4 separate regions of the Homo sapiens genome follow, and regions 1, 2 and 4 are each reported to be linked to region 3. The links are microRNA targets in miRTarBase. Many come from high-throughput screens and were not tested one by one. Region 3 holds a microRNA gene; each other region holds the end of a gene's coding sequence.
Evidence for each region. The annotated mature microRNA hsa-miR-4307 reads AAUGUUUUUUCCUGUUUCC and lies in region 3 at 2,563-2,581, opposite strand. An mRNA with a match to its seed (bases 2 to 7 or 8) in the 3' UTR can be bound and repressed. Matches are read on the target gene's strand: a 7mer-m8 pairs with bases 2 to 8, a 7mer-A1 pairs with bases 2 to 7 and ends in A, and an 8mer does both.

Region 1: miRTarBase lists GDAP2 as a target of hsa-miR-4307. Seed matches in the 3' UTR shown: 7mer-m8 at 6,257-6,263, 8mer at 6,236-6,243, 7mer-A1 at 5,248-5,254, 7mer-m8 at 3,458-3,464 and 7mer-A1 at 892-898.
Region 2: the mRNA of POU2F2 is a reported target of hsa-miR-4307. Seed matches in the 3' UTR shown: 7mer-A1 at 5,062-5,068.
Region 4: miRTarBase lists CFAP20 as a target of hsa-miR-4307. Seed matches in the 3' UTR shown: 8mer at 1,436-1,443.

Annotation. Positions count from the first base shown.
Region 1 is chr1:117,863,775-117,871,293 of GRCh38, forward strand. It overlaps GDAP2 (ganglioside induced differentiation associated protein 2), which reads right to left. Exons shown (of 14, transcript NM_017686.4): 14 at 1-6,842. The coding sequence ends at 6,795. Among named protein-coding and RNA genes, the nearest start is that of GDAP2, 62 kb to the right of the region's middle.
Region 2 is chr19:42,084,668-42,092,186 of GRCh38, forward strand. It overlaps POU2F2 (POU class 2 homeobox 2), which reads right to left. Exons shown (of 15, transcript NM_001394376.1): 13 at 7,402-7,519; 14 at 7,200-7,273; 15 at 1,443-6,924. The coding sequence ends at 6,590. Among named protein-coding and RNA genes, the nearest start is that of ZNF574, 12 kb to the left of the region's middle.
Region 3 is chr14:26,903,759-26,911,277 of GRCh38, reverse strand. It overlaps MIR4307 (microRNA 4307), which reads right to left and starts at 2,636; the gene lies at 2,553-2,636. All of the region lies in intron 3 of MIR4307HG (MIR4307 host gene), which reads right to left.
Region 4 is chr16:58,107,864-58,115,382 of GRCh38, reverse strand. It overlaps CFAP20 (cilia and flagella associated protein 20), which reads left to right. Exons shown (of 6, transcript NM_013242.3): 4 at 1-114; 5 at 463-573; 6 at 1,353-1,791. The coding sequence ends at 1,358. Among named protein-coding and RNA genes, the nearest start is that of CFAP20, 18 kb to the left of the region's middle. RefSeq lists an enhancer at 5,896-5,945.

The sequences.
Region 1 (7,519 bases), not on the chromosome of region 3:
ATGTAATATATATAAAGAGCTTAGCAGCGTTCAAGGCACACAGTAAATCCTCAAATGTTAGCTGTTATTATTTCTAATCAAAGCAGTGGTGGCTGCTATTTATAAACACTACTATGCATGCTTTATGTACATTATTGCATTTGTTCCTCCTAATTATTCAATTAATATTATCCCTGTTGAATACACAAAAACACTGAGGTTCAGAAAAAGTTGAGAAACAGGCCCAAGGTCTGAGTGTGTCAGAAGCCAAAGCGCCAATGCTACTGACCACTAAATTGTTGCTTCTTAAACTGGGGTCCATGCAAAATCCTTGTGGAGTATATATGTGTTGGGTGTAGGAAAGTGCCCATGAACTTACTATGAGAATTATGCATTATTCATGTTGATGAAACATTTTAAAATAATATTCATGCTCTGAATTATTTGGATAATTGTATTAAAACCAAATATTGGCAGAACCATCTCAGTGCTTAGGTTTGTATTTGTATTGACTTCCCTGTTAAGGCCCAGTTCTACATTAGTGGTGGAAGGCTTATGGAGAACAGAGGCTGTTTTAATAGGGGAATGATGGATTCAGGCTAGATGAGGACCAAATAACATCACTATGTGCTGAACAAATTAAAGTAATAGTCTGAATAGGAGAAAACAGGGTGAATTGGGTCATCACATAGTACATGGCAGTACATGCCTGTTGAACTGAAAAGAGCCTGTACTGTAGCACTCAGTACCATAATCACATTACAAGTGACAATTTCATTTTGTCAAAACATCACTATTTAATACTATTTTAAATTTTATTAGTTTTATAGTTTTGCTTGTGTTAACCCATAAACTTGTTTTGGTTTTATACTTGTGCAAGACATATAAACATAAAGCATTTATACCTAGTTTTATGTTTATATATATTTAGATAACATTATAATAAATATAAATTAAGCAAAAACTGAGGAGCTAAGAGATTTTTTTCCTTATTAAAAAGTGAAGTACATTATTCAGTTTGAGAAAACTGGTCTACACGGTCGGTCCTGCTTGTGAATGTCGTCTTCAGGAGGTAACTTCTATTATCACCAACCTCACAGGATTTGTAAGAGCATTAGAAGAGACGATGAACGTTAGAGTGCCTGGACCACAGGAAGAATTACAATGACAGTTCTGTCTCCTTTCCTTGAAAGAGAAAATCTGGAAGCTAAATGCAGTCTATACTCTTTTACTCTAACTATGGTCTGGGGACCAGGAGAATTGATAACACCTAAGAGCTTGTTAGAAACTGATAATCCCAGAGGCCACCCCAGAACTATTGAATCTGAATCTCCATTTAATAATATCCTCAGCTGATTTGATACATGCACATGAAAGTTTGGGAAACACTAGTCCAGGTCTCCACAGAGAATGTTGACTAAAATTCACTGAGTTTTTAACTACTCTTAAGGTTAACTTTGGTAATTAGAGAAAGACCTCATGTAAATGGTCAAAAAATAATGTCCCATCCTGGGGTTCAATATAAACACTATTATTTCACTATTGATTCTTCATAGGCTATATTTGTATAGAGTGAGACCCTCTTTAAAAGGGATCTAACTTCTAATTCAGAATGAGCAAAAAATATTTTAAAATACAAAGTTTTCATAAAAGCTTTCTGAATTTTCAGTAAGCAAATTGTAAGATCTGTCAATTTAAGCATTTTTAGGTTTCCTTCGCCCAATACCAATTAAAATCATTTATATATGTTAAGCTCTTAAATATTTAGCTCACAAGATCTGGTCTAACAAAGTCCTGTCTCAGTCTGTGATGACTGTGTGCTTACGTTAACGAAACACATTACAAAAAAAAAAGGTATGACTGTGTATATAAAATGTATTAGCTTTACTGTCCAACAAAAGTATCAGATCACATTCTGCAGTTGTGATTTTGTTAGTGTAATTCACCTACAGAATACCTATGCTTTTCTTCCTGAACTCAGTGGTCCTATACATTTAAGGCATACTGTACTTGAAAAGATTCAAAGATGCTGTTCTTAAAAGTGTAAAAAATAACTAATATACAAGAGAGTCACTAATATCTAAAATGATCTTGATACCATCTGTTTAAGGACTAGTTCAGTAAGACTCAAAGATTGAACTAGGTTATTTATTGCTCTATGTTCTCTACATATGGACCACAGAAGTCCGACTCAAAGAATGTAAAACAAGGCAGATTATGCATATATGTGTGTGTGCATGCATGTATATGTATATATGGTTAGGCCTACCAGGCAATCCTTATCATCTCTGGGTTTATGATATGACCTAGATTATAGGTATGTTATGAACTGAATGCTTATGTTCTCCTCCTCGTCTGCAAATTCATATGTTGAAGCCCTAACATACAAAGTGATGGCATTTGGAGGTGGGGCCTCTGGGTGGTAATCATGTCATGAGGGTGGAGCCCTCATGAATGAGATTAGTGCCCTTATAAGAAGAGACAGGAAAGTAACGATGTCTCTCTCTCTCTGCCAAGTGAGAATACAGCAAGAAGCCAGAAGAGGGCCCTCATCAGGAATTGCGCTGGATGGCACTTTGATCTTGGGGTTTCTCAGCCTCCAACTGTGAGAAATAAATGTGTTTTGTTACGCCACCCAGTTTACGGTATTCACCCAAAATGACTAAGGTAAGGTAAAGCCCTCCTTTCATTCTTCATGGTCTTTTTGCAAAACAAGAGTTAATTATATGCCAAGAAGCATTAGTGCCAGCACAGTTAAAACACTCTAGCGCACGTTAATTATGATGATTACAACTTAAGAAAACTATAATCAGAAACCTGGCCAGGCACAGTGGCTTATGCCTGTAATCTGGCACTTTGAGAAGCCAAGGTGGGCAGATCACCTGAGGTCAGGAATTCGAGAGCAGCCTGGCCAACATGGTGAAACCCCGTCTCTACTAAAAATACAAAAATTAGCCGGGCATGGTGGTGCATGTCTATAATCTCACTTACTGGGGAGGCTGAGACAGGAGAATCTCTTGAACCCAGGAGACAGAGATTACAGTGAGCCGAGATCGTGCCATTGCACTCCAGCCTGGGTGACCAAAAAAAAAAAAAAAGTACAGTAAGGCCCTTTAAAAAAAAAAAAGAAAAAGAAAAAGAAACCTAACTAACTCCAGTTTTCAAGGTGTTTTTATATTATCCTGCAGTTCTTTTGGTCCTTAATACAATCAATCCACTGCCACTAGAACCATGTAACTCTCCTCTATATAGTACTTCAAATTCTAATCATTTCTGTGCATATATTAAGCAATTTAAACTCTATATACATACATACTGTCAATGTATCGGGGAAATACAAAGAGTGATCTTTAGTTTATGCTGAATACTTAATTTTATCACTTCTCCATTAACTGTTATAAAGACAAGACTAAACCTACAGTTTGAATTCATTAAACAATATCCAAGCAAACAGAAAAGAAGAGGAAATAGGCAAGCCATGTTTTTCTACTAGAGTGACTATACTTATCCCTCTTTAAAAAGAAGTGATATTTTCAATTTCAGAAATTTGATTAAAAAACTACATCTATTTTTCCTACCAAAAATACTCAAAAAACCCTCTGCTAATTACTCTCAAAATACTGCAGATGTATTCCTTTGAAAAAGGAAATACAGGATGGGCACGGTGGCTCATACTGGTAAGCCCAACACTTTGGGAGGCCGAGGCAGGAAGATCACTTGAGGTCAGGAGTTTGAGACCAGTCTGGCCAACATGGTGAAACCCTGTCTCTACTGAAAAAAAAAAAAAAAAAAAAAAAAATTAGCCAGGCATGGTGGCAGGCACCTGTAGTCCCAGCTACTAGGGAGGCTGAGGCAGGAGAACCACTTAAACCTGGGAGGCCGAGGCTGCAGTGAGCCGAGATCACACCATTGCACTCCAGCTTGGGTGACAGAGTAAGACTGTCTCCAAAAAAAAAAGAAAAAGAAAAAGGAAATATAAAGCATCCGCCAATGAAACATAATATACATTAAAGGAGAAAACGTCTTTAAAATATGTACCATTTGCCCTCACGAGTCTAATAAAGGCTGAACCTTTTTTAAGAGGTAATTTTCACTATCAAGAAACTTGGATATAGATGAATTAAGAACCCAAATACACGTGGAAGCAAGAAGTGTACTTGTTTTAAAAATCATATTATGCCTTGCATGATTAATAAATTAATATTTTATAACTTGTGTCTTCAACAATTCAATTAGCATTTGGCATGACCAAAGTTTAATTAAATTAAAGACTTGGTGGTGCTTTGAATTAACATCAGATGCTGGTGGTCATCTCCATCCAGTATCCCCTTTATCCTCTAATATGTCCTTGAAAATGGCATGTATTATTCAGGCTAAACCTTTTCACAAAGGCAGATTGGTATACCAAATGTTGCTTAATCATTTCAATATCAAGGTCATTATATTTCTCCTCTAGGATTTGGTACTTTGAAGCAACTTCATTCTATAACACTTTAGACATCTATAAAAGCATGAACTTGGTCCCACATCAAATTTAGTTTCAGTGAGAAGAGTGGTCCTTATCTTTCTTTAGTCATCATTGAATTATAAAACACAGTTGATATGTATATAGTTCTGTATCACCTTTATACCCTAGGACATCAATTGTACTAAAATCTCAGCATATGTAGAATCCTGCTTGTGTTACTAAACATTAATATACTGGTATGAATATAGCAAAGGAACATCCTTTCAAAATCATTGCCTGTAAGAAATTGTATATATAAATTTGCTTCCTTTCAAATTGGCAAAGTAGCTTACGGCCTCTATTATCTCTACAGAAAATGGTTTGGGCCAGGTTCTTGAGGTAGCCAAGTTCCCCTTTAACAAAGAAAAGTTGGCAGACTTTCATAGCTGCTCCTTGTGAAGAAGATACCTCAAATATGATCTCACGATTGACTGTAGAAGATGAAGTTAAAGTTGCAGACTTTTAAGGTACAGTGCCCAAGGGGTTAAAAAAAAAGTACTGTTTGAGAGAAAGCTTAACATCCGACATCTGACTGGCTGCCTGGATGTGATGACCTAGGGGACATAAGAGAAAATCTTAACATAGATGTATATATAAGGATCAAGTAATTTTGAGGTCTGACACAAAGAAAATGTGTTCAATACATGCAAAAGATAAGAACCTTTATCTAAAAAATGTAAAGTCTCTTCTTGTTTATATGGGAAAATACAGGATGAATTTAATGCACTATAGGGGCATTTCCCTATCATAAATGAAGAGAATATGTTTCTTTGATCTCCAATGAAGAATTAGTTTGGGCAGAAAAGAATGGGACCCTTGGAAGCACTGATCTGGAGCACATGATAGAACAGAAAGGTTCTGCTTTTTTTTTTCTCTGAACTGCCAATGTACGTGATGGGGTGAGGAAGATGGGGCTGTGGGGAGGTGGCTGTAGGAATCAAAAAAAGTACAAAGCTACCCAGATGGGAATAATAATGGTTTGACCTTAATTCAAGAAGAAATGTTTAAAATGGCCAACAGATGCCTCTTATTGAAGTATAGCATCAGGGGATGAGCAGGCCAGAAGAGATTCTGGACAAAAGAGGAAGGAGGTCATCAGGGTTGGAATTTTACACTAACAGGTATTGCCACACAAAAAGAAAAATCACTCAAATGGTATCAAGGACAAGAGGAGTGCTGTGTAGCATTCCCTCATATATATTTATTCCCATTTAAAAACTAACTGAAGATACCCCACCACAACAAAGCCCTTTCTAAATGCTATCTTCATGATACCTCTGTGAGGTAGGCAGCATAATTCTAATTTTTACTCATAACCAAGCTAAGGCACAAATAGAGCCTGAGTGGTAAAAGTGGTCTTTTGCCAATTATCAGCTCCCTGGATTTGTTCACTGTGACACACTTCCTCCACACTGATGCAGGCAACTCAAGAGATGCTGCTATGAAATGTCCTTAGAGGTAGTAGACCTGATAGCTAAACAAAATCATTCATGACTCTGGAAGACAACACACTCTCTAAATGCTCACTGCTGGAGTCTTGGAAGATGCTCTTAAGAGTACTAATATGTGCGGTCCTTTTGAATAAGACCAAATCATCCATGATTATAGGAAAAAGGCTGAAGATACAGTCTTCTTGTTTCACCCCACACTGTTGAGATCGGAACTGTGGCAATCTTAACAAGTCATATAATCCAAGGAACCTTAGTCCTTAAACTTTAGTCTTAACTTGTACATTAACATTCTAAGTCCTATGTTTTGCTAATGATTTTGATGTTTTTTGTCAGATACATTTCCACATTCTTGGACTCAGGTAATTCTCTTTTAACACAGCCAAATTATCTTTATAAAATATACATGGTATTAACACCATGGATCTGAAGCAAACAATGCATCTGGTTAGCATACATTGGTTCTGTATATTTCGAGAATCACTTAAGTACACAAAGGAAGCGTGCAATGTTAGAGAGATGATGTGAACAGTCTTGGTGGTTTATCTAATGGAGAATTCGGTGTCCTTCAGGAAACTAAAGATACTCAAAAGTTGCTCCCCAATTTCTATTAACAATCTAAAAATGAACATTTCCATTTCATATAAATATACAAATTTAAAATGTGTGCAGTTCAGAATGGCCTACCATTTTTAGATTGCTTATGTGCCAGAAAATATACAGTCAATAAAAAAATACCAGAGAGGTGGGGACAAAAGGCTCTCTGGATCTGTACAGCAACAATGAATATCACTTCAACAGGTAGCTATTCGTGGAGGAAGTGGCATCCTGGGAACCAAGAAGCACTGAAAGATGGCAGGTCACAAATCTGGTGATGGGGGATATGATGTATAGTAAGGCCCGTTTTCCTGTGGAAAGAAAAAAGGAGAAGAACATTTAAGTAACAGAACCAATTTAACTGGAAATGTGAAAAAAAGGGATTTACAGTCATTGAGGTAGTGATATAAAATGTCTAGCACATGTCTGGCACTAAGCAGGCCCTCAGCCATTAGGTAGTTCAACTAGTATCACTCAGAGTATAAGACAGACAAAGGCAATAGGATCATAATATTTTTTAAGAATAATACCACTTATTGAATATTTTATGTGCCAGACAATTTATAGGCGCTTTTAAAGTCATCCCTTTAAATCTTCACATAATGCCATGAAGTAGGTAACATCCTCACTTTACAGAAGAGGAAACTGAGGATCACACAGATTGCATAATTTGCCTAAAGTTACCTAGTTGGTAACCAGCACAGCCTGAATTTAAATTCAAATCTATTTAAATCTAACATCCAGATTCTTTTTTGTTAGATTGTGTTGTCTTACTGTGTGCCAAATCTTAATTTAGAGTTAGGAAAACAAAAAAGTTATCACAGAGGAATTTAATAGCTATAACTATTTTGGCAGAAGTGAGTCTTCATGACATGCCTGAGTGGCAAGGCTTGTAACAATTACAGTTCTCAGGAAATTTAGTTCAAGATCAAGATGGAGAATTAAATGCCAAACCTTTAATGTCAATGTAAGGGTAACAAATTAGTGC
Region 2 (7,519 bases), not on the chromosome of region 3:
TTTGTTTGTTTGTTTTTGAGACGGAGTCTCGCTCTGTCGCCCAGGCTGGAGTGCAGTGGCACATTCTCAGCTCACTGCAAGCTCTGACTCTGGGTTCATGCCATTCTCCTGCCTCAGCCTCCTGAGTAGCTGGGACCACAGGCGCCTGCCACCATGCCCAGCTAATTTTTTGTATTTTTGGTAGAGACGGGGTTTCACCGTGTTAGCCAGGATGGTCTTGATCTCCTGACCTCGTAATCCACCCGCCTCGGCCTCCCAAAGTGCTGGGATTACAGGCCTGAGCCACTGCACCCGGACTTTTTTTTTTTTTTTTTTGAGATGGAGTCTCGCTCTGTCGCCTGGTCTGGAGTGCAGTGACACGACCTCAGCTCACTACAGCTTCCACCTCCCGGATTCAAGCTATTCTCCAGCCTCAGCCTCCCGAGTAGCTGGGTTACAGGCGTGCGCCACCACGTCCGGCTAATTTTTGTATTTTTAGTAGAGACGGGGTTTCGTCATGTTGGCCAGGTTGATCTTGAACTCCTGACCTCAGGTGATCCGCCCGCCTCGGCCTCCCAAAGTGTTGGGATTACAGGCATGAGCCACCGCTCCCGGCATTTTTGTTTGTTTTTGGGTGTTTTTTTTTTTTTTTTTTGCATTTTTTTGGTGATGTGAAAAAATGACATATAACTCTTCTGTTAATTTATTTGACTATTTGTGAGGTTGAAACTTTTTAATGTGTTAATTGAAACTCTGGTTTTAAAGAGTCTCTTTAGTCCTCTGGGGAAGCATCCAGGGATGGAAATGGAGAGGTATTTGCTGGTTTCCTGGCTTTCTCATAGTTCTCATATATTGAAGACAGTGTGCTGGAGCTCAGTCCTAAGCACTTTACTTAGACCATCATCCTACAACCTTGTGAGGTAGGTATTGTCCCTTATTTACAGATGAGGACACAGAAGCTCACATATTGAAGGTCATATATTTATAAAATGGCAGAACTGAGATTTGAATTCAGAAGTATGAATTCATCCTAAATTCAAAGACTTGGTTCTTTGGCAAGAACATTTGTGCAGGTTTTACTTCCAAACATTCACTATTTTTTAAAATTTAATTTTTTTTGTTTTTGTTTTTTTTGTTTTTTAGACAAGGTCTCTCTCTGTTACCCAGACTGGAGTGCAGTGGCACGATTACGGTTCACTGCGGCCTTGACATCCCGGGCTCAAGCAATCCTTCCACCTCAGTCTCCCAAGTAGCTAGGACTAGACAACAGGCACATGCCACCATGCCGAGTTGAGTTTTTGGGGCTTTTTTAGAGAAGAGTTCTATGTTGCCCAGACTGTGAACATTCACTATTGGAACAGAAGTAAAACCCTCCCCTCCCCAGCATACAGATCTCCAACCCCACACCCTGATTTCTTCACCACTCTTCCCAGGACAGAGAGGAGACCAAGGGAGAGTAGGCATCATTTCTCTCTGTACAGTTTTTAATTTTTTATTTTTTGATGTTTGTTGTTCAGATGAATGACACACTCAAGTTACAAAAATGGGGCCTTAAAAGAAGCACATTGTACAATGAACAAGCAGATTGGAGTTAAGAACACTGAAACACTAACCCGCTACCACGAGAAGAGACGGAGGGGGTACAGGAAGGGAAGGAAGGGGCTACCAACACAGGGGTCAGACGGAACTGAAAGGGAGGCTAACTTGGTAAGGATGGAGGAAAGGCAGGTCTACTCCAGGGCTGATTTCTGGATGCCGGTTCCTGGGCACCCTTGCCTTGTACTTGCCACCCCCTCCAACTTCACCCACCCCCATTCCAACCTGGTCATTCTGGGTGGTGAAAGACACCCACACCAGAATGGGCTGCGCCAATCAGGTCTTTACCAAGTAGGGTGGTCACCTTGCCCTAGTGCAGCCCTGGATTTGGAAGGTGATGGTGGAAGCAGTGGGACAAGAGGCCAGAAAGGAGTTGAAAGTTCAGGCCCCTGCTCTTCCCAAAGACTCCTCGCCCATTCCCCACCCTGCCATTATCCAAAGGCTCTCTACGAGTTGCCGAGAGAGGCCCCCAGTCACCCTGCAATTATATAAATAAATAAATACTGAGCCCCTGGGTTTGGGGGACATATTGGGGGAGGGGCAGCAAGGATAGAGGACAGGAAAGAGAGGAAGGGGAGGGAGGCAGAAGGGAGGGGTCACAGACATAGTAAATAGTTGTCTCCATCCCAGCAACACTTCTCTCTGGATTTTTCTCTCCTTTTGTTTGTTTAACAAGGAGCTAACAATTCAAGGACAAATACTTAAAAATATACATTATTTTTTCTTTGTTTCCGCCTTTGTCATCGTCGTCTTGCTTTGGAGACTGCTGAGGTCAAAGTTTAAACCGCATGAAGGACTTGCGGCTTGGAGTTTTTGTGTATTTTTTTTTATTTTTATTTTTAATTTTTTTTCACTTTTTTTCCAACATATAAAAAGGTAGCGGAGTTGTCTGTGGGTTTTTTTTTTTTTTTAAATGGTTAAATCTTTGGTTTGTTTCTTTTTTCTCTTGGAGGCCTTTATCTCTCGCACTTGCCTTTCCCACTCAGAGACCAGTGGGGGCCCGCGTGTCTCAATCTTGCTGTCTGTCTCACTCTCTCTCTCACTCAGGTCCCCCTACCCTGGGCTAGAGGAAGAGAGAGGCACCCTGGTGTTCATGTGGGTTAGAAAAACTAGTCAGGTCAAGAGGTCACCCTGACTTGGCTAGTCCCTCGCCAGATCTCCCCAGGGCTTGGAGAGCCCGTCATGGCCTTCTCCAGGGAGATGGATGGAAAACTCATATCCTTCCCCTCCTCCTGATCTCAGCCCCAACTCCTACTGGGGCTTGGGTTCCCCATCCCTACCCACCCCCACACACACACCCACCCCACCCCCCAGAAGAGAACAGAGAGAGGTGGTTTAGTTACTGGCATCAATTTTTTTTTTTTTTTTTTTGGCACAATGAAAAGGCCCACCATTAGGGTAGACCCAGTCTCTGTCCCTCCCTTAAGTAGGAGGTCAGGGTTGGGGAGAAGAGAAATTCAGAGGGCTCCCCACTGCTCCAACCCACTCATCTCTCCTCTCTTTCTAGCCCAGGCCCTTGGCCCCCAACCTCGGACATCTAACCTAGCCCATAGCCTAGCCTGGGGTTGCCCTCCCCATCCCCCACATAAAGCTCCCCAGCCCTCCAACTCTCTCGCTCATACACAGACACACGGACACAGGCTCTGTACAGACCACAAAATAAAAACGATGAGATAGTTTTGTTTCCCGGAGTCGAGACGGGGGACCAGAGTGTAAGGGGCAGATGGGGGTGGGGGGCATGAATTCCCCCATCACCTTCCCAACCCTGGCTCCCTCCAGCCCCCCAGCCCCTTGCCCTGGCTGGCCCCCAGCCAACGATATTTGGTTTCCTTTTTTTAACATTAAAGTTCTATGAGGTATTTGGTGCCTTATCTCGAGTCCTCAGGGGAGGGGGGCCCAGGGGGAGACCTGGGGCTCACCTGCCCCTCCCTCCCTCCTACCCCCTTCCCAATATTTGGTTTCACAGCTGTAGTTAAAGCTTGGGATTTGGTTATTTTTCCCCCTCCCAGGAATTTTTTTTTCTTGTTTTTCTTTTCCTAGGTGTGAGGGTTGGATGGGGAGGGTCCCCAGCACCCCCGGCTGCACAGGGGTCCCTCCACCAACATCAGGGCATCTGCCCCATCCCTGCCCCCTGCTCCTCCTCTCCTCTTTACCCCACTCCCACATACTGGGGTGGGGAGAGGTCCCAGGTGGTGGGACTTGATGGGGAGGAAGCAGGATGAAGTGGGTGGTGGTGAGTCCTGGATTTTCTTTCCTTTTTTTTTTTTTTTTTTCCTTTTTGGTCTAGAATCATAGTTTTTGTTTGAGTCATCTCCACCATGCCTTCCATGCTGCCTGTCTTCTCGGAGGGGGTTTTTGGTTGTAATTCCTTTCATTTTGCTCTGCTCAAATGTCCTTCCTATTTGGTCAGGAGCCCTTGGCCCCCTCTCCACCCTTGGGCTGGGGCCCAAGCCCTCTTGCCAGTCCCTTCTCTCTTCAGGAAATAAACATGGACAAACTCAGAGGTAGGGTAAGGGCAGGGAGTCGTTCAGCGGAGATGCTTACATTCCGGTGAGGTTGGGTAGACGAGGTGCCAGGCCCCATCGTGCCGGGGTGGGAGGGGCGGCTACTTCACCACTGCCCGGACAAGGCACCCAGAGGCCCCTGCAATGGCCGAGTCTCTGCTGCCTCCGTCGCCCAGCCCAACAGTTTCATTTCCCGGGTGGGAGAAGGGAGACAAGGAAAAAAGAGAACGCTGAGGCCTGGAGCTCCATCTGCCTCTCCTCAGAGTGTCCGGCAGAAAGTGGAAGCTGCCCAGGCCAAAGCCCTGCGGTCTCAGGGCTCTCCTCTCTCTCTGCTCCTGCCCAACAAGGGGCAGGGGCCACACTACGGCTGTCAGGCCCCACCCTGATTTCAATGGCTCGTGTCCTTCACTGCAACACTTTGGTTTGAGGAGAGACACAGAAAGAACAAGATTGAGAGAGAAGAGAGGAGAGCAAAGGGAGAGAGAGGAGACAGGAAGGAGGAGAGGAGAGAGGAAGGAGGGGAGGAGAGAGGAAGGAGGGGAGGAGAGAGGTCAGACAAAAGAGAACCGAAAAAGAAATCAAAGGAGGAATCAAACCACCCAAAAGTTGTTAAGTTTTCCTTCATCTGTTCTTTTTGCTTTCTTACTCCTTTTTTTCCTGTCTTTTTTTAAAGCTTTTTCAGTTGATTTGGGAGGGGAGTTTGGGGCTCTTCACCCCTGTCCCTGATACCCTCTCTCAGCCCCGCCCACCCGCTTCCATCTGCCCTGGCCGAGGGACAGGCCCTGCCCCAGCCGCCCCCTCCGGCTTTCCCAAAGACAACGTCCATGAGGTATTTGTGAAGAGAAAGAAGCATCCGTCCTTCCATCCGCCTTGGGGAACAAGGGCCTGGACCACCGGTGCAGGGGCTTGGCTCCGCCTCGCGGTTCCATCTTATTCTTGAAGAGTCCTCATCTTCTTTCCCTTTTATATATATATATATATATATGTTTATATATATATATAAATTTTTTTTCTAGTTTAAATTTATTGTTTGTTTGTTTCTGTTTTTTTGGTTTTCGGTTCAAAACTTTGTTGGCCTCCACAATAGCAGGAGGGCAGGGTGGCTCCCAGTGGTGTCTCTCCTCTGTCCGTCGTCAGTGGAGACGTGTCCGGGGCTGGTCAAACACAGGGTCCAGCCAAGAGTTGTGGAGGTCTTGTGGGAGTGGTGGCCACCACCGCGCCCTCTCAGATGGGGACCACAGGCTGTGGCACTGTCCCCACCACATGGACCCTGATGGGGATGCCATCTCGAGGAACCCCACCACTGGGGTGTGTGCGTGCGTGCATGTGGGGGGAGGGAGAGGCATTCGCCAGTACCAGAGGGGCACAGGGTGGGAAAAGCGAGGTGAGTTCTCTTTTTGGTTTCTGGTTAATGTCAAAGAACGTGAAGGATCCCACGGATAGGCACTGGAATATGAATTTTTTTTTTTTTCAGGGAAACAGACAGGATGGAAAAAGACAACTGAATGCCCTCAACTGAATGTCTTCATCCCCTCTTGCCTGAAATTTCCACCTTCCCATAGGCTGGGGAGGGAGTCAGTTCCAGAGCAGAGGAGGGTGACAGGGTTGAGGAGGGACTTGTGAGAGCTAGAACTTGGCAAAATGGCCTAGCCCACCCTTCAAAGGGGAAAAGAGGGAGGAACAGGGGATGAAAAGTTGTCCGCAGGCCTTCCCTTGAACTCTCCCCTGCTGGGGGGAGGGAGGAGGTTAAAGCAAGACCCCCTGCCCAGGTGGGGAGAGCTGGGGGCCAGGGGAGAAGGGGACACATGGTAGGGACACATTCTGTTGAGCACAATGCTAAAAATTCTGTACATCCTTTGGATGAAGCTACTGAATATTTGGTGTAAGGTTGTTCAGGCCCTTTCTCTTTCACCTTCTGGAAAAGAACATTTGGTGGGTGGTGCTAAGCCCCAGCCCATCTGCCCAGGCTGTGCCCTGTCTTCGCTGGCCCAGGGCTGGGGGCTGGGATTAGGAAGCTGGCATCTTCTCTTTTTCCTTCTGTAGCCCCCACGGGGGAGGCAGGGTTGGGGGTTGGTCCCACAGCCAGGGCTCGGTGGCATGAGGTCTGACCTGCTGGAGGCTTCTCCGCCCCTGGCTGGGGTTTTTATTTGGCGTCGTAGCAGTGAGGGTGAGCACGCTGAGGTCTGGCTCGCGACTGGTTTTTTGGTTTGTTTGATTTTGTGGGTTTTTTTTTTTTTTGGTTTGTTTTTGGTTTTTTTTTGTTTGTTTTTCACCTCTGGTTCCTTTGGGGCAGCTGGTTTCTGTTGTGATTATTTTTGGTTTTCTCTTTTGTTGGTTAGTTTCTTTCCTTTTTTTTTTTTTTTTTGGTTGGTTGTTTTTTTGGTCTTTCCTCCCTTGTCACTCCTGCTCTGAGGACCCTCTGCGTCCCCACCACTGGCCTCCTCGCCCTCTTCCCAGGCAAGGGACCAAGGCAGGGACCAGAGGAATGGGAGGGGAGGCATGGCTGGCCCTCACTCAGGTTTGGACCCTGCCTCGGGCCCCCCTGGACCTCCAGGGGTCTGTGCTGCCGTCTCGCTGCAAGTGGAGGAGGAGGAGGATGAGGATGAAGAGGATGAGGAGGAGAGGCCAGGAGACTTGCTGGAGATGGAGGCTGCCACAGCCGCAGCCGCTGCTGAGACCAGGCCCACACCAGGCGGGGTGCTGAGCAGGGGCAGCCCAGCATGATTCAAGAAGAGCGGCGAGGTCACCAGGCCAGGGCTCCCCGGGGCTGCACCGGCTGCCCCCAGCACCAGATTCCCGCTGCCATCAAGGCTGGTAAGGGGCAGGGTTCCACCAGAGGCCAGGGCTGGCGGGGAGAGAGAGAGGCTGGGCTAAGGGCATGCCGGGCCAGGGGAGACCTTTGCCTTCCAGCATCCTGCCCAGAGTGCCCCCCATCTCCCCATCGGTCCCACTGACCCCCATCAGCACCCCTCACACCTTCCCCAAAGGTGAGATGGGTATGAAGAGGCAAGCAATGCAGTGAGCAGGGGCAGGATGGCATGGCTGGAGCAGCAATGGCAGGGCTCGAGGCCCCAGAGGATAGGGCTGGTGACGATGGGTGTGACATGAGGCAGCACGCACCTTGGATAGTGGCCAAAGGGTTGTTGCTCATGAGGGCTGGACTCAGCCCGGAGCTCAACCCCACCATTGTGCTTCTGCAAGAGGCAAAGCAGAGGCATTAGCAGGGGCAGGGACCTGCCAACATAACTGGGGTGCCGCTCCCCACCCTAGAAGCAGCAGCGACCCTGCTTCTCCCCACAGCTTCCCACGTGCACCCACTTACCCCGTGCTGGGGTTCAGGCCTGACAAGCCGATAGCCGAGTGGCTGCCTTGAGGGCTGGGGTTTGTGCTGTTGGTGGTGGCCGGGGGTGGGGGAGTGACAGAGGGGATGGAATTGAGGG
Region 3 (7,519 bases):
ATCTGTGCAGTTCTTTCTTGGTGCCATCTTGAAGCTATTCACTTTTCTTCTAAGAATGTGAAAACTATATGATGAGTTTCTTATCCAAATTATGCAAAAAATCACAGCCTTTTCTTTCTTTCTTCTTATATATGATTTTATATTAAACAGTTTTCTTTTAGTTCAAAACATTTTTATACTTTATATGTTTTTACCTATTTTTCCAAAGATACTACCTAAATATTTTAGTCAGTTTTAGCCCTTATTGTTTTACTTCCCAACTCATATTAGTAAGAAATTGATATTTATTGAATACTTGTGGCTTTTAAGAGACTTTTGTTTGGTATTTCAATTTTGATCAATGTTTTTTATTATATGACATGTTAATCTTATTTAAAAACTTGGAACTCCTACATTGCAGTTCAAAGACTAATGACATTATCCCCATTTAACCAATGTGCATCAAGTAATCCTTCATGCCAGGAATTATTCGACGTCCTCAGCTCACAGTTGTGAGCATTACAGAAAACAAGATTACATTTTAACACAGGAATACAAACAACAAAAAATAATAAAAACTTAAATAAATGAGAAAACATTGGATTAGAATTAAGTGCAAGGGAGATAATTAAATTAAGATGCTGTGATTGAGAATGACGAGTAGATACTTCATACTCAATGGTCAGGGAAAAACTTTTCTGAGGAGATAACAATGAAGCTGAGACCTAAATTTTTAAAAAATGTTTTGTGCTAATGCTGTAAGTTCTTCTCGTCTTTATATCACTTTTTTGGCATTGTTACTCATCTAGGATTTTATGATTAATGTTGTCACTGTTATTATTATTCACTTTTCAAATTCACATAAATTTTACTTTTTGATGTACCACCCTGTCAAATTTGATAAATGCTTACAGTCATATAAAACCATGACCACAATCAAACTGCAAAATAGTTCATCACCCCCCAAATAACCCCTGTTGCTGCACTTTATAGTCAACACCTCCTGCCCGCCCAGCCCATAGCAAACACTAATGTGCTTTCCGTTCCTATATTTTACTTTTCCAGAATGTCATTAGATAGAAACATACCATATAAAATTTTTTCTCTCTGCCTCTTGTTACTTAGCACATGCATTTGAGATTCATCCATGTTGTGTGTATATTATTAATCAGGTTTTTCTATTGCTGACTAGTATTTCATTGGATGTATATGTCACTATTTATCCATTAACCAATGAAGGATGTTTAGGTTTTCCCAGTTTTTGACAATAATAAATAAGACCATTATAAACCTTTCCATACAAGTTTTTGTATGAACCTAAGTCTTCATTTACCTTGGTTAAATACTGTGAGTAGGATTACTGAGTCATGGGCTTATGTTTAACTTTATAAGAAATTTCTAATTTATTTTCACAAATGGTATATCACGTTTATTCTTGCAAACAACCTATGGTATCTCATGGTTTCAATTAGTATTTCCCTAATGACTACTGATTTTGAGACTCTTATTATGCATATTTATCATCCATATATGTTTGGTGAAATACCTGTCAAATCCTTTCCTCATTTTCTATTTGGTTGTTTGTTTTCTTAAAATTAGTCTTATTAAGGGTGGGTGCACACCTATAATCCCAGCACTTTAGGAGACCGAGGTGGGCAAATCAATTGAGCCTAGGAATTCTAGACCAGCCTGAGGAACACAGCAAAACCCCATCTCTACAGAAAATACAAAAAATTAGCTGGGCATGGTGGCACACGCCTATAGTCCCAGACACTTGAGAGGCTGAGGTAGGAGGATCACCTGAGCCAGGAAGTTGAGGCTGCAGTGAGCCAAAATGGTGCCACTGTATTCCAGCCTGGGTTACAACGTGAGACTCTGTCTCAAAAATATATATATTCATATTAAGTATTTCAGATTCTTTTTACATTGTAAATACAAGTCTGTATTAGTTACCTGTTTTGCACATATTAATCCAGTCTGCAGTTTCTTTCTTTTCTTAACATTGTGTTTGCAGAACAAATACTCTTGTTTTTATAAAATAAAATTTATCAAAGTTTCTTGTGTTCTTTTGTTGTCATATTTAAAAAATATATTTAACAAGACCATCTATTGAGAAAAGAGGGTTCACATACTCTCCAATAAAGTACTTATATTATTAAGAAAAAGTTCAAGTGCCTATCTGAGAGGGAAATTTTCATCTTTGTAGATGATTGCTAGAAAAATGTTCTACCTATATTTTCATATCTCAAGTTAAGCTAAGACAGCCAACCACTTGTCAAAAATGAGGTTTACTGTAAAGAAGAAAGAATTGTAAAATTGGTATATACTTTGAAAAGTAAAGTACACCAACCTTTTCATTCAAATCTAATAAATGTATCTAAGTAAACTATTTAAAACTTTTCAACAGATGCAGAAAAAAAAAAAAAAGCCTTCCTAGAGCTTTCTTTATCTGAGTAAAAGTAGAAACTTATGGGAAATAAGGCTGCTATAAATTGCACTTCAGGGTAGATCTAATCCCAGAAGGGAAAATGTAAATAAAACCTACCTCAAACCCCTTCTCCAGGGGAGTATTATGGCCCTGAAGGAAACAGGAAAAAACATTCATAACTATATAGACAAACATTATCACAAACTTTATCTCCTGTTTTTTCTTCTGAAAGCCCATTTATCTTTCCAAAAAGTCATCTGTTTTCCCTAGGTGCCTTTCTCTCTCTCCCTTTCACCTATTAAAATTGTATTATCTATAAGCTCCAAATTCTAATTACTTCTTTTGAGTCACTCATCATTGAGTTCTTCCATGTATATGGGTGCCGCAAGCACAAATAAATTCTATTGTTTTCTGCTGTGTATAATATGGGCTAAATTTATTGGTTGGGTTTTGGAGGCTATCTAGAAGAATGTCAGCAAACTATTTCCATATGGTAGAGCAGGTGGAAAAACATGTATGTACACATGCATATCCAGAAAGAACAACAATAAAAAAGCCCTCTGCTGATCAAAAATATTCTAATAAACTCAATATACATACAATAAAAATAATACAAGTAAAAAGATAATAAAGCATAACAATTATTTACATAGCATGTACATTGTATTAAGTATTGTAAGTATTCTAGAGAGGATTTAAAGTATACGGGAGGATATTGATAAGTTACATGTAAGTAATATGCCATTTTAAATCAGGGACTTGAGCATTCATGGATTCTGTTTTAGTGGGAGTGATCCTGGAACCAATTATCTCCAGGGATAATGAGGGACAACTGGATAGCTTTTCCATCACCCACGCAGATGTAAATAACCACAAGATCATCAATAGCATTAAAATATGGTGGAATAATTAGAAAGTAATGAATATTGAGTATATATTGCATGTTTTTATTATAATATATGGAAGATATGGAAGTATAGATTTATTTTGTAGATTTTTTAAAAACTGATATGTGCATTTAAAACCTGTCTTGCAAAATTCCTAAAAATTTAATAGCTGGCTTTTAATAGACCGTAGAAGGCAGCTCCAGCACACCACTGGTCTTATGCCTTTGGAAGCTTCCCACAGCAGAAAATAAAGCCTGAGAGTGCAACAAAGCTGAGCTTATTCTAACTCCATATCTTGGTTAGCCATAAAGAGGAAAAAATAACTATAAAACAATGACAGATCTCCTTACTCTACTGGTAGTAAATTTCTGTATGCTGTACTGAACTCTTTATTGCCAGGCAAAATTCTATGTCAGTTCCAGCAGCAAACAAGACCAATGAAACCCCTGCTCTCATGGATTTACATTTCAGTAGCCCATTTTTGTTGCCCCATGACACATTCCTTTTCTTTTAATTTGTGGATTTAGAACCTGGAGCTTCTTCTTGGCTCCTTGGACAAAACCATGTTTATTCTTGGGATATACCCTATCAACTCTGATTTCTCTTTAAAGATGTACTCATTCTCCTTTACTGGGAATTCTCCATTTTTGTGGCCTCTCACTACCTCCTTTCTTTCTTTTTTTTTATCATTAATTTGTTCTTATAATTTTGTTTTTGTTACTTAAAAAAAAGACTGTGAGAAAACATTGACAAGTGTATTTTCTGTTCATCTTAAACCAGAAAATATTATCTGATAATTTGAAATCAGATTGTTAATCTAAATAGAATGAATTTAAAAAGTTCTATTTTTTTTTTTTTTTTATGGGAGTTTTGCTATTGTTGCCCAGGCTGGAGTGCAATGGTATGATCTCAACTCATTGCAACCTCCGCTTCCCAGGTTCAAGCAATTCTCCTGCCTCAGCCTCCCAAGTAGCTGGGATTACAGGCATGTGCCACCATGCCTGGGTAATTTTGTATTTATTTTTATTTTTATTTTTTAGTAGAGTCAGGGTTTCTCCATGTTGGTCAGGCTGATCTCGAACTCCCGACCTCAGGTGTTCCGCCCGCCTCAGCCTCCGAAAGTGCTTGGATTACAGGCGTGAGCCACTGCGCCCAGCCAGTTCAATCCATTTCTGAAAGTATCGTGGAAGCCTGGAAGATTTATTTAGTGGCCCTTCAGATTAACGTATTAATTTTTTAAAATAAACATAAGATAAAAGAAATATAACATCAGAGTGAAAGGAAAATTGGGACCTCATTGAGTACAATTATTCCATAGCCTCTCTATAATTGGCCAAAATACACATACATTTTTGTGACATACTTAGTTCTAAGATTTTATAAATTTCTATTAACGTCCTAAAAAATCCAATAGATGTAAAAGTTGAGCAAACTGTCTTTGAGATCCATCCAGCTAGAATTTTTTTCTGTCTTTAACCATTTTGTGGAATATATTCTTATATTTATATTTTATCATTTATATTTATATTTATATTTATATATAAATATATTTATATTTATATATATATATAAATATATTTATATATTTATATATCATTTTATATTTATATTTACAAATTTATAGTTTTCATGTGTTTTTAAACTGGGTGAATGTTTATTGTTTGGGAAATAAGAACTCTACATGTTAAAACTTAAGTTTAACTTAGAAGCAATTCAGTTAACGCTATTAAGTTTTAAGCATGTATTGATTTCGTGTTTTCATCTCAGAATGTTGTGATGCATTAAATCTGCAATTACAATAAAAAAGGCATGAGTTCAATTCCTTTAATCTGTAAAGTTGAAATGTTTTATTTAATCTATTTTAGGGTAGAAATTCAACTGGGATCCATCAAAGCATAAATTTTGTTTGATTAAAAAGCTTATGTATTGACAATTAAGCATTAAAAATATTCACTCTTTTGCATCTCATTCTAAATGAAAATAGTGACTTTTGTAATGCATTGATCAAGGAAAGCTGGATAATTTACATCTTTGAGTGATATTATTTTACACTATCTTTCTGCTTTTTAATATCTTACTGTCTACTATCACCTTTAAATCATTGTTGATGATTATAGCACAGATCAGTTCTACTTCCTTTAAGTTTCATCTGAAATGCTGAAGTTATCAGATCAAGATGGCAATGAGTAAACTGATACTGTTAGAGGTTTGTATTTGGTCCAATCTGCACATATAAATATATATATATATATATATCTGCACATATATATATATATATATATAAAAAACCAACCTATATAGGTTGTATATAGTACAAACTGTTTTAAAAGCTTTTCCTAGGACTCTTTTCAAAAAGTTGTTTAAACAAATAAAATCAAGAAGAAAATAAAATATGCTATACAACTATTTATGGAGAGTATATATTTTTAGTTTGACTTCATATTGTCAACATAGATATACTCTATGACCAGTTCATTTCTCTCCTTGCTACATTTTCTTTTTTATATAATTAGTTCTTGTCTTCTTGTGCTTTCTGAATATCGCTGCTGTATAGAGACACCTGCTGGGAAATAAATGAACAGAAGAAAATTCAAACCTGTGCTTAGAAACAAGAAAAGCTTCTCTCTTATACAGTTTAAGCAAGCTTTCCTCTAATAACGTATTTTGTATCAGAGCATACATGCCTTTGAAATATATGAAAATCTACCTATATCTGGAGCTTTGCTATTAATCTTAAAATCTCTACCTCGGCATGAGGTTTCCAGAATCTACATATAGGTACGCTTGCGGTATAAAATAGGTATGTAATACAAGACAGTTGTAAATCTATTTCAACTAAGTCATTTAAGTGTTCACATGTATCTTTAAAAATTTTTACACATAATTATTTTCCAGTGATTAGGGCTTCTCTTATTCATATTTTTACATCTTAATTTTTATTTAAAACATTTGCTAAAGCAAGGCAAACTTTTATTATTGATTGGTTTAATGTAAATATTTGCATTAACAAAAATTGTCTTTTGAAAGTTTGTTTACATGAGTATCTGTTTACATAAACCTTTGTGTTCAATTTCAATCTAAGTTGCAAATGGCAAGATTTCATTATTTTTTACGGTTGAATAATATCTCATTGTGTATATGTACCGTACTTTCTTTATCCATTCATCTGTTGGTAGATACTTAGGGTGATTCCGTATGTTGGCTATTGTGAACAGTGCTGCAATAAACATGGCAGTGCAGATATCTCTTCAATAGACTAATTTTCTTTATTATGGATATATACCCAGCAGTGGGATTGCTGGATTATATGATAGTATTATTTTGCGATTTGTAAGGAACCTCCATACTATTCTCCATAGTGGCTATATTAATTTACATTCCCACCAACAGTGTACAAGGATTCCCCTTTCTCCATATCCCGGCCAGCATCCATTATTACCTATCTCTTTGAAAAAAGCCACTTTAACTAGTGTAAGATGATAGATCATTATAGTTTTGAATTTCATTTCTCTTTTGAGTGAGTTTCCCAATTGTAAACCAGCAGATCAACAACATTGAAAATTAAATGTAAAAATACATTTAATTGATAGTTTAATAACAAACCATCAATTAGGTATTTCAATTGTGTTCCAAACTCTGGGTCAAGCTTAACTTCTTCAGAATTACGCTGATTTCTCATGTATTATAATAAGATGATAAGTCTTGAAGATGATATGAGCATATCTGAGTCCTTAAATAGTTTTAATAATTTCATTTATGTGCTTTGCTGAATGAATATCAAATAGCAGGGCAAGATTACAGGCAGGTCTTGAAGTGCAGTTACTACAGCAGTTCTCAAGTGATATTCACCATAATTCAGCTGAACATAGACCAGTCATGTGTGGAGAATGGATGAGAGCAGGATTTCCAAGCACCTGCTCTCTGCTCCCAACCAGACAGGAAAAATACAGTACATGGTGACAAACTGATATCAGGCCTCCAAACATGTGGCAAAGATGCTGACAATTGCTAAGAAGCCAACCAAACATATTATGATTAAAGATGGGGTGAACACAGCATAATATCAGAGGAGAAGAAGAGAATTCACTTTGAGAAATTACAGTCATGTAAAAAGAAAATTCACTTTATACTTAATATTAAATGACCTTAAAAATTCAGATTGTCCTATTCAGATCAAATATATAAACCAATTCCAGGATCTCAATAGCATCTTGAAAGAGAGAAT
Region 4 (7,519 bases), not on the chromosome of region 3:
ATCTGCACCATGCCCATGCGGCTGGATGACGGCTGGAACCAGATTCAGTTCAACTTGCTAGACTTCACACGGCGAGCATACGGCACCAATTACATCGAGACCCTCAGAGTGCAGGTACTGCTCCTTTCCCAGATAGAGCCCTGGGTTGGGGATAGGGCACACTGCGTCTAATATTGGCTTGTGGCCCACATAGCAGAACAGTGTGGGTTTCTGGCTTCAGTTGCCACACTGTCCAGGGAGCTTTGGCCTCACAAAGGTCCAGGAAATATTCAGAAGTCGGGTCAGGTATAGAGGTGAATACAGCAAGTAAGACCTCCCTCTTGCCAGAATCCATCCCTAAGACAAGCCAAGGAGATGCCGGAGATGACGCGTTTCCAGTCCTGGAAGAGGGCCTCTAGAAGATTCAGGAAAAGGGGGAGAACAGTCACATTTCGCCTCTCAAAAGAAGCATTGCCTTGACAGATCCATGCAAATTGTCGCATCCGACGGGTTTACTTCTCAGACAGACTCTACTCAGAAGATGAGCTGCCGGCAGAGTTCAAACTGTATCTCCCAGTTCAGAACAAGGCAAAGGTAAGCCAGTCTTCCCCAGAGGAAGGTCCACCAGTGAGTGGGGGGAGCTGTGTTCCTGGAAGGTGCTCTGGTCTAAGAATTCAGCTGCAGAGCCTCTCTGTGTTGACACTTTGGGGTGCCTTTATATCGCAAGATCTTAGGTCTCCTTCCAGCACTGAATCAGGAATGCTCCTGTGAAATACTCTGTTACTGCTGTTTCCCCTCTCCACGGTGAGAGGGGATGAGGCACTTCCTACTACTGGCTCACAGAACTTCAGAAAATATCTTAACTTTTTTTTTTTTTTGAGATGGAGTCTTGCCCTGTTGCCCAGGCTAGAGTGCAGTGGCACGATCTCAGCTCACTGCAACCTCTGCCTTCCAGGTTCAAGGGATTCTTGTGCCTCAGGCTCCTGAGTAGCTGGGATTACAGGCGCCTGCCACCATGCCCAACTAATTTTTAATTTTTATAGAGACGGGGTTTCACCATGCTGGCCAGGCTGGTCTCAAACTCCTGACCTCAAGTGATCCGCCTGCCTCGGCCTCCCAAACTGCTGGGATTACAGGCGTGAGCCACCGTGCCCAGCCCCATCTTAACTCTTAATCAGCCCAAAAGTATTATCAGCTGATAGGTCCCTGCTAACACAAGGGTGGGTGCTTCCCTGCCTGTGTGCTGCAGATGTGTGTCCATTCTCCACAGTCACTGTCCACTCAAGTGTCACCAGAGGCAGGGGGCCTGTGACACTGACCATCTATTTTCTAGTAACTTAAACTGATGCCACTTCTCTGTTTTTTCCCTTCAGCAATAACTGGAATTGTGACTCGAGGGATAGACCCCTGGATGTGACTCTTCTTTTTAAAAGGAAACTATGTGGAGGACGATGCAAAAACATATTTATCTTAGTTTGCTCTGCTGTAGTTCTGTTATTTATACTTGGTGTTGCTTGTCATGGACACCGGTGAACATGCCGTAACTCTGTGACTGCATTGTAAGTGCAGTGGGGGTAAGCAGTCCTGTGAGTGGCGCATGAACGCTGGAGCTTATTCCGCCGCCTGCCCCAGTGTGGGGGGAGATACCTTTACCATGAACTTACAGAATTAAAGATGGCCCATAAGGAATTCCAGACCAATATTTCTTCCTGCGGTTTATTCTATGTTTTATATATTATCTAAATATATGTATATGCTGTGTCATACTCATAATCTGGAAATGAATAAAGTGATATATTCCTGGTTTGTAAATTTGTTCCTAGTTTGTCTTTTTTCATGGTGATGTTTGTTTCCTTTGTGATATGAAAAGAGAACTATTTCCATTGAACATCTTATACATTTCATGCTGTGAAATGTCTTGTATTAAGTATCTAAAGAACAAGACATATTATGCAGCTGACCCTTGAACAACACAGGTTTGAACTGTGCGGGTCCATTTATATGAGGATTTTCTTCCACCTCTGCCACCCCTGAGACAACAAACCAGTCCCTCCTCCTCTCCCTCCACCTCCTCCTCTTCCCCTCCTCATCAATGTGAAGACAACAATGATGAAGACCTTTATGATGATCCACTTAATGAATAGTAAATATATTTTCTCTTCTTTATGATTTTCTTAATAACGTTTTCTGTAGCCTACCCTATTGTGAGAATACAAAATACAGTATGTAATTCATACAAAATATGTGTTGAATGGCTGTTTATATTATCAGTAAGGGTTCTAGTCAACAGAAGGCTATAGTAGTTAAGCTTTGGGAGAGTCAAAAGTTATACATAGATTTTTGCATAAGGGGGTCGGTGCCTCTAACCTCTGAGTTGTTCAAGGGTCAACTGTATAAACTGGTTCAGAACAACTTTGAAGACTAAATGGGAAAAAAAAAATAGTATGTGACCAGTGGAATCATCTTGCTAGGGGTTGGGTCCTAGGTTGAGCTTAAGACAGAATGACATAGTCTAAATTGCACCTAAAGCATTGGAGCAGATCACCATTTCTCTATTTGAGTTCCCGCTGAAGTACTACTGGCCTTGAATGTAGGGACTTAAAGAAAAATGTTTCTTTTTTTGAAACGGAGTCTCACTCTGTCGCCCAGGCTGGAGTGCAGTGGCAACATCGCAGCTCACTGCAAGCTCCTCCTTCTGGGTTCACACCATTCTCCTGCCTCAGCCTCCTGAGTAGCTGGGATTACAGGCGCCCGCCACCACGCCCAGCTAATTTTTTTCTATTTTTAGTAGAGACGGAGTTTCACGGTGTTAACCAGGATGGTCTTGATCTCCTGACCTCATGATCCGCCCGCCTCGGCCTCCCAAAGTGCTGGGATTACAGGCGTGAGCCACTGCGCCCGGCCAGAAAAATGTTTCTTTAAACGCTGGAATCGCATGAGGGAACTGGAACCTTACACCACTTTTCCCACTGTGCTTATTCTGGGCAGATGCCTGTTGAGTGGAATGACACTGGCACTATTGCCTGCTTTTTTCTTTTTCTCTTTTCTTTTTTTTTTGGTTAGGCACAGATGAATTTGCAAAAGTTAAGCACTGTATATGATACAACTCTACCACATGCAACATTTCTGAGGGGAAAGCAATTTGAGGGCAGAGAAAAGCACTTATCAGCATCCCCCTATTAGGTGGTGTCCTATATGATCTTGAAGGACACACAACTAATACAGTGATTACCTGGGCAGAATGATTTTGTTGTGTTTTTTTAAATCACTTGTATACTCTCTTCTACTATTAAAAAAAACAATGTTTTTGGCCAGGCGTGGTGGCTCACGCCTGTAATCCCAACACTTTGGGAGGCCAAGGCAGGCAGATCACTTGAGGTCAGGAGTTTGAGACCAGCCTGGCCAACATGGTGAAACCCCATCTCTACCAAATATAAAAAATTAGCTGGGTGTGGTGGCGCGCTTCTGTAATCCCAGCTGCTTGGGAGGCTGAGGCAGGAGAATTGCTTGAACCTGGGAGGCAGAGGTTGCAGTGAGCTGAGATAGTGCCACTGTACTCCAGCCTGGGTAACAGCAAGACTCTATCTCAAAAAAAAAATTTTTTTTGGAAAGACATTTTTGTAATAAAAATTTCAAAGTTAATGCAAGAGCAAAAGGCTATTCCAGATTCTGTGCCCTCCCCAGTCACTCCCCGGGGTTTGCTGTCATTGCACAGACTGGAACTGTGGGCACCTGCCATTTTGACTTTGGTTAGAGGTAAAAACATTAAGTTCTGGGATTTGTCATTACCATTGCTGCCTTCTGAGAAGTTAAATGGCAGGAAGCACGCTTTCCCCACATCCGTATCCTCCAGAGTATGCTGTGGGGAAGCATGGCCAAGTCTCTGAGGAGGCAGGGGCTACAGGAGGTGGAGAAGTGGAGGGGAGGGTGCTCCACAGCTACCTGATGAGACAGTTGTCAAGTGCCTGAAACTCAGGTGGGCGCAGTTAAGACAACTTTCCCCTTTTTCCTTCTGCTGGTGACCAGCCTGGAGCCACCTTCTGGAGGATGCTGCCCCTCTCCTTTGAGTCCCTAGTCATCAGCATCACAGAACACACCCCCTCAGCCCAGGTGACAGAGCCTGCTCTTGCAGGGCTAACTCTGGTCAAAACTGAACGTCGTCCTGCTTCCCTGTGCTTAGCATGTCAGCATCCCCCTCTTAGGCAGTGTGCCTGTCTCCTTCACTTTCTTGCTTACAATAGGAATCCTCAAATGGCTGAGTGGGTGGAGGGGTGGGCAATAACCAACAGAGTGTCTAGCCTCTGGCCACTGTCTAGTGAAATCTTCCCTCCAATCCAGACTCGATTATGGCATGAAAGATGCTTTTGTGATGACAAGAAAACCGCGTTAACTTCTCATCTCTTCTGGGTGCCAGGATATCAGTGAAGTGCTCCTGGGGGTTCAGAGCAACACAGGGAGGCACTCTCCTCCACACAGAGCCTCTTTCACCCCAGGCACTTGTTAGACCGTGTCTGGGGATTACCTCACCACCCTTTGGGGTGGTAGGTGGTGACTTCCCAGATGCCTCACATACCCATCCCAGAGGAAGAAGGAAGCGAGGGGCCCCGGGGGTGATGAGAGGTATTATCTGAGCTGGCCCCAGGCCAGGGTGAATAGTGGTGTCATGACTGCACAGCCCCTTGCCTGCAGCTTTCCAGCTCCCCAGGAAGACGACAACCTCCAGTGAGGCTGAGGGAAGAGGGAATGACAGGCTGCTGGGCTGAGGCGCCCTCATGGAGTTTGGGCCTGGGTGATCTCGGATCACGGTAATTGGAGCAGGCAGAATTGCATTATCCAGCTCCTTGGAAGTCACAGTGTGTTTTAGAAGGAATTGCCCTCTAAATGAGAGAGTGTTAGTTAATTGGCATGAACTTGGAATAGCACACAGCCGTTCCCAACAGGGCTGATTCTGGGGGAGAGTAGATTTACTCTGGCCCTTAATTGCCCCTGGCCCGTTGATTGCTTCCTCTATAGCCAGGCTAGAAGACTGGCCGGCGCCACACCAGTCAGCTCCTGGGGCATTTCTGAAGGTTGCAAGAATCCCAGAGAACAACCCCAAACCGATGTCCCTAGCCCCTCAGTGGCTTCACCCAGAAGCCCTAAGTGTCAGGAAATTCACTGAAAAAGATCTTGCAGCTCTTGTCTGCATCCTCATCCCCTCATTTTACTGATCAGGACACTGAAGCCCAGAGAGGGATGGGCTAGCCCCTCTAGAAACAACGGGGTGGAACGAGGACCCCATGCTCCTGAGGAGACCCATATGCCATCCCTGTCCTCTTTTGTGTTGGCATCCCCTTGCATCAAGCACTGGAGTCAGCTCTGCCCAGCAGTGAGGGCTGGCCTGCCCAGTCACTATGTGGTCACATATTAGTTGAACACAAGGGTCTGAGGCTGACAGTAAAAATCTCATTTGTGTTTAACCAGGGAATCATAAAAGTAATACATGCTCATGGTACATTCATGAGCTCATGGTTCAAAGAATATGAAGGGCTGGGCACGCCTGTAATCCCAGCACTTTGGGAGTTCGAGGCAGGTGGATCACTTGAGATCAGGAGTTTGAGACCAGCCTGGCCAACAGGATGAAAGCCCATCTCTACTAAAATACAAAAAAATTAGCCGGGCGTGGTGGCGTGCACTGCTAATCCCAGCTACTCAGAAGGCAGAGGCAGGAGAATTGCTGGAACTTGGGAGGCGGAGGTTGCAGTGAGCTGAGATCGCACCACTGTACTCCAGCCTGGGCAACAAGAGTGAAACTCCATCTCAAAAAAAAAAAAGAAAGAATATAAAGTAACATATAAGTCCCACTTCCCATTTCTGAAATGACAGCACCCGAATGTATTAACAGAATGTAGTTGCCCTTTCTTCCTGCACCCAGCCGCCTAGCATGAACAGCTTTTTCAGTTTCCTGATCGCTGTCATGTGTGTTCTCTCAGGAGCCTGGGAAGGCCTGGCACTGCAGATGACTTCTAACGACAATGGAGACCCACGCAGTACATGGCAGTGCTTTTCAGAAGGTAGCATGCTTTCATAGCCGTTGCATGTGGCGCCCTTGGGATCCTGTCTGGAAGGTTATATGTGGCGCTGCCCCCATCTATGGACAAGCACAGAAGTTAAATAGCTCACAGGGGCTGCATGGCTCACATGGGCCAGAGCTGGGAATAAAGCCTAGGGCTTCCTGCTAGAAGGTCAGGCTCCTGATGCTGAGCACAAGTGTCTGCTCATAAGGCATCTAGAATAGACTTGAATAGGCCGGGCACAGTGGCTCATGCCTGCAATCCCAGCACTTTGGGAGGCCGAGGCGAAAAGAACAACTGAAGTCAGAAGTTTGAAACCAGCCTGGCCAACATGGTGAAACCCTGTCTCTACTAAAAACGTAAAAATTAGCTGGGCATGGTGGGCACCTGTAATCCCAGCTACTCAGGAGGCTGAGTCAGGAAAATCGCTTGAACCCGGGAGGCGTAGGTTGCAGTAAGCCAAGATTGTGCCACTGCACTCCAGCCTGGGCAACAGAGCAAGACTGTCTCTAAATAAATAAGGATAGACCTAATTGGTTGGAGGGCGGGGGGTGCACAATGTACCTTTCCCACAGGAAGATGAATCTACTGAATTTTAATTCATATTCTTAAATTATGTTGCTGGGCCAGGCACAGTGGTTCATGCCTGTAATCCCAGCACTTTGGGAAGCCAAGGCGGGATGATCACCTGGGACCAGGAATTTAAGACCAGCCCAGGCAACACACCGAGACCCCATCTCTACAGAAAATAAAAAACTTAGCCAGGCATGGTAGCATGCATCTGTAGTCTCAGCTACTGGGGAGTCTGAGGTGGGAGGATCACTTGAGTCGGGGAGGTGGAGGCTGCAGTGAGCTATGATTGCACCACTGCACTCCAGCCTGGGTAACAGAGCAACACTCTAAAAAAATAAATAAAAATCCAGCAAATTCAGAGTCCTTGGCCCTGGCCTATTTAAAATGCATATTTCTGGGACCCAGCTTATTAAAATGACAATTGTCCCCACCCCAAGAGATAACATTTTTATTCTCTCTCTCTGTCTAAAGCCAACCCAGAAATCTGCATCTTAATACCTTCTCCTGGTGTTTTTTGGTGATTCTGTCATCTGAGAGTGGCTCCACATTTGAGTGAGTGGATATGATACATCTGAGCGTAGAGAGGTCAGACACTGCTGGGAGAGAAAAGAAACGTAAAACACCGCCCTCCCCGCCCCCACCCACCACCCAGGCACATCTGCAGATTGCAACCTCCTCCTACCAAAAACAAACAAACAAAAGAACCCTTAAGTTCCTCCTTTTATACAGAATTCTAATATGTCATTGACATCTCCATACATTTTCCATAACCTGAAAGTGTGAGGTCCTGTAATGCAAATCACGAGTGCCTCTGGGCTGTGATAGAGGCACTCCAAATTGCAAATCCACAAGACATTGAACATCTGGATAGAGCATGAGCCTTGGAAAAATCATGCCTCTTGGTATCCATGGTG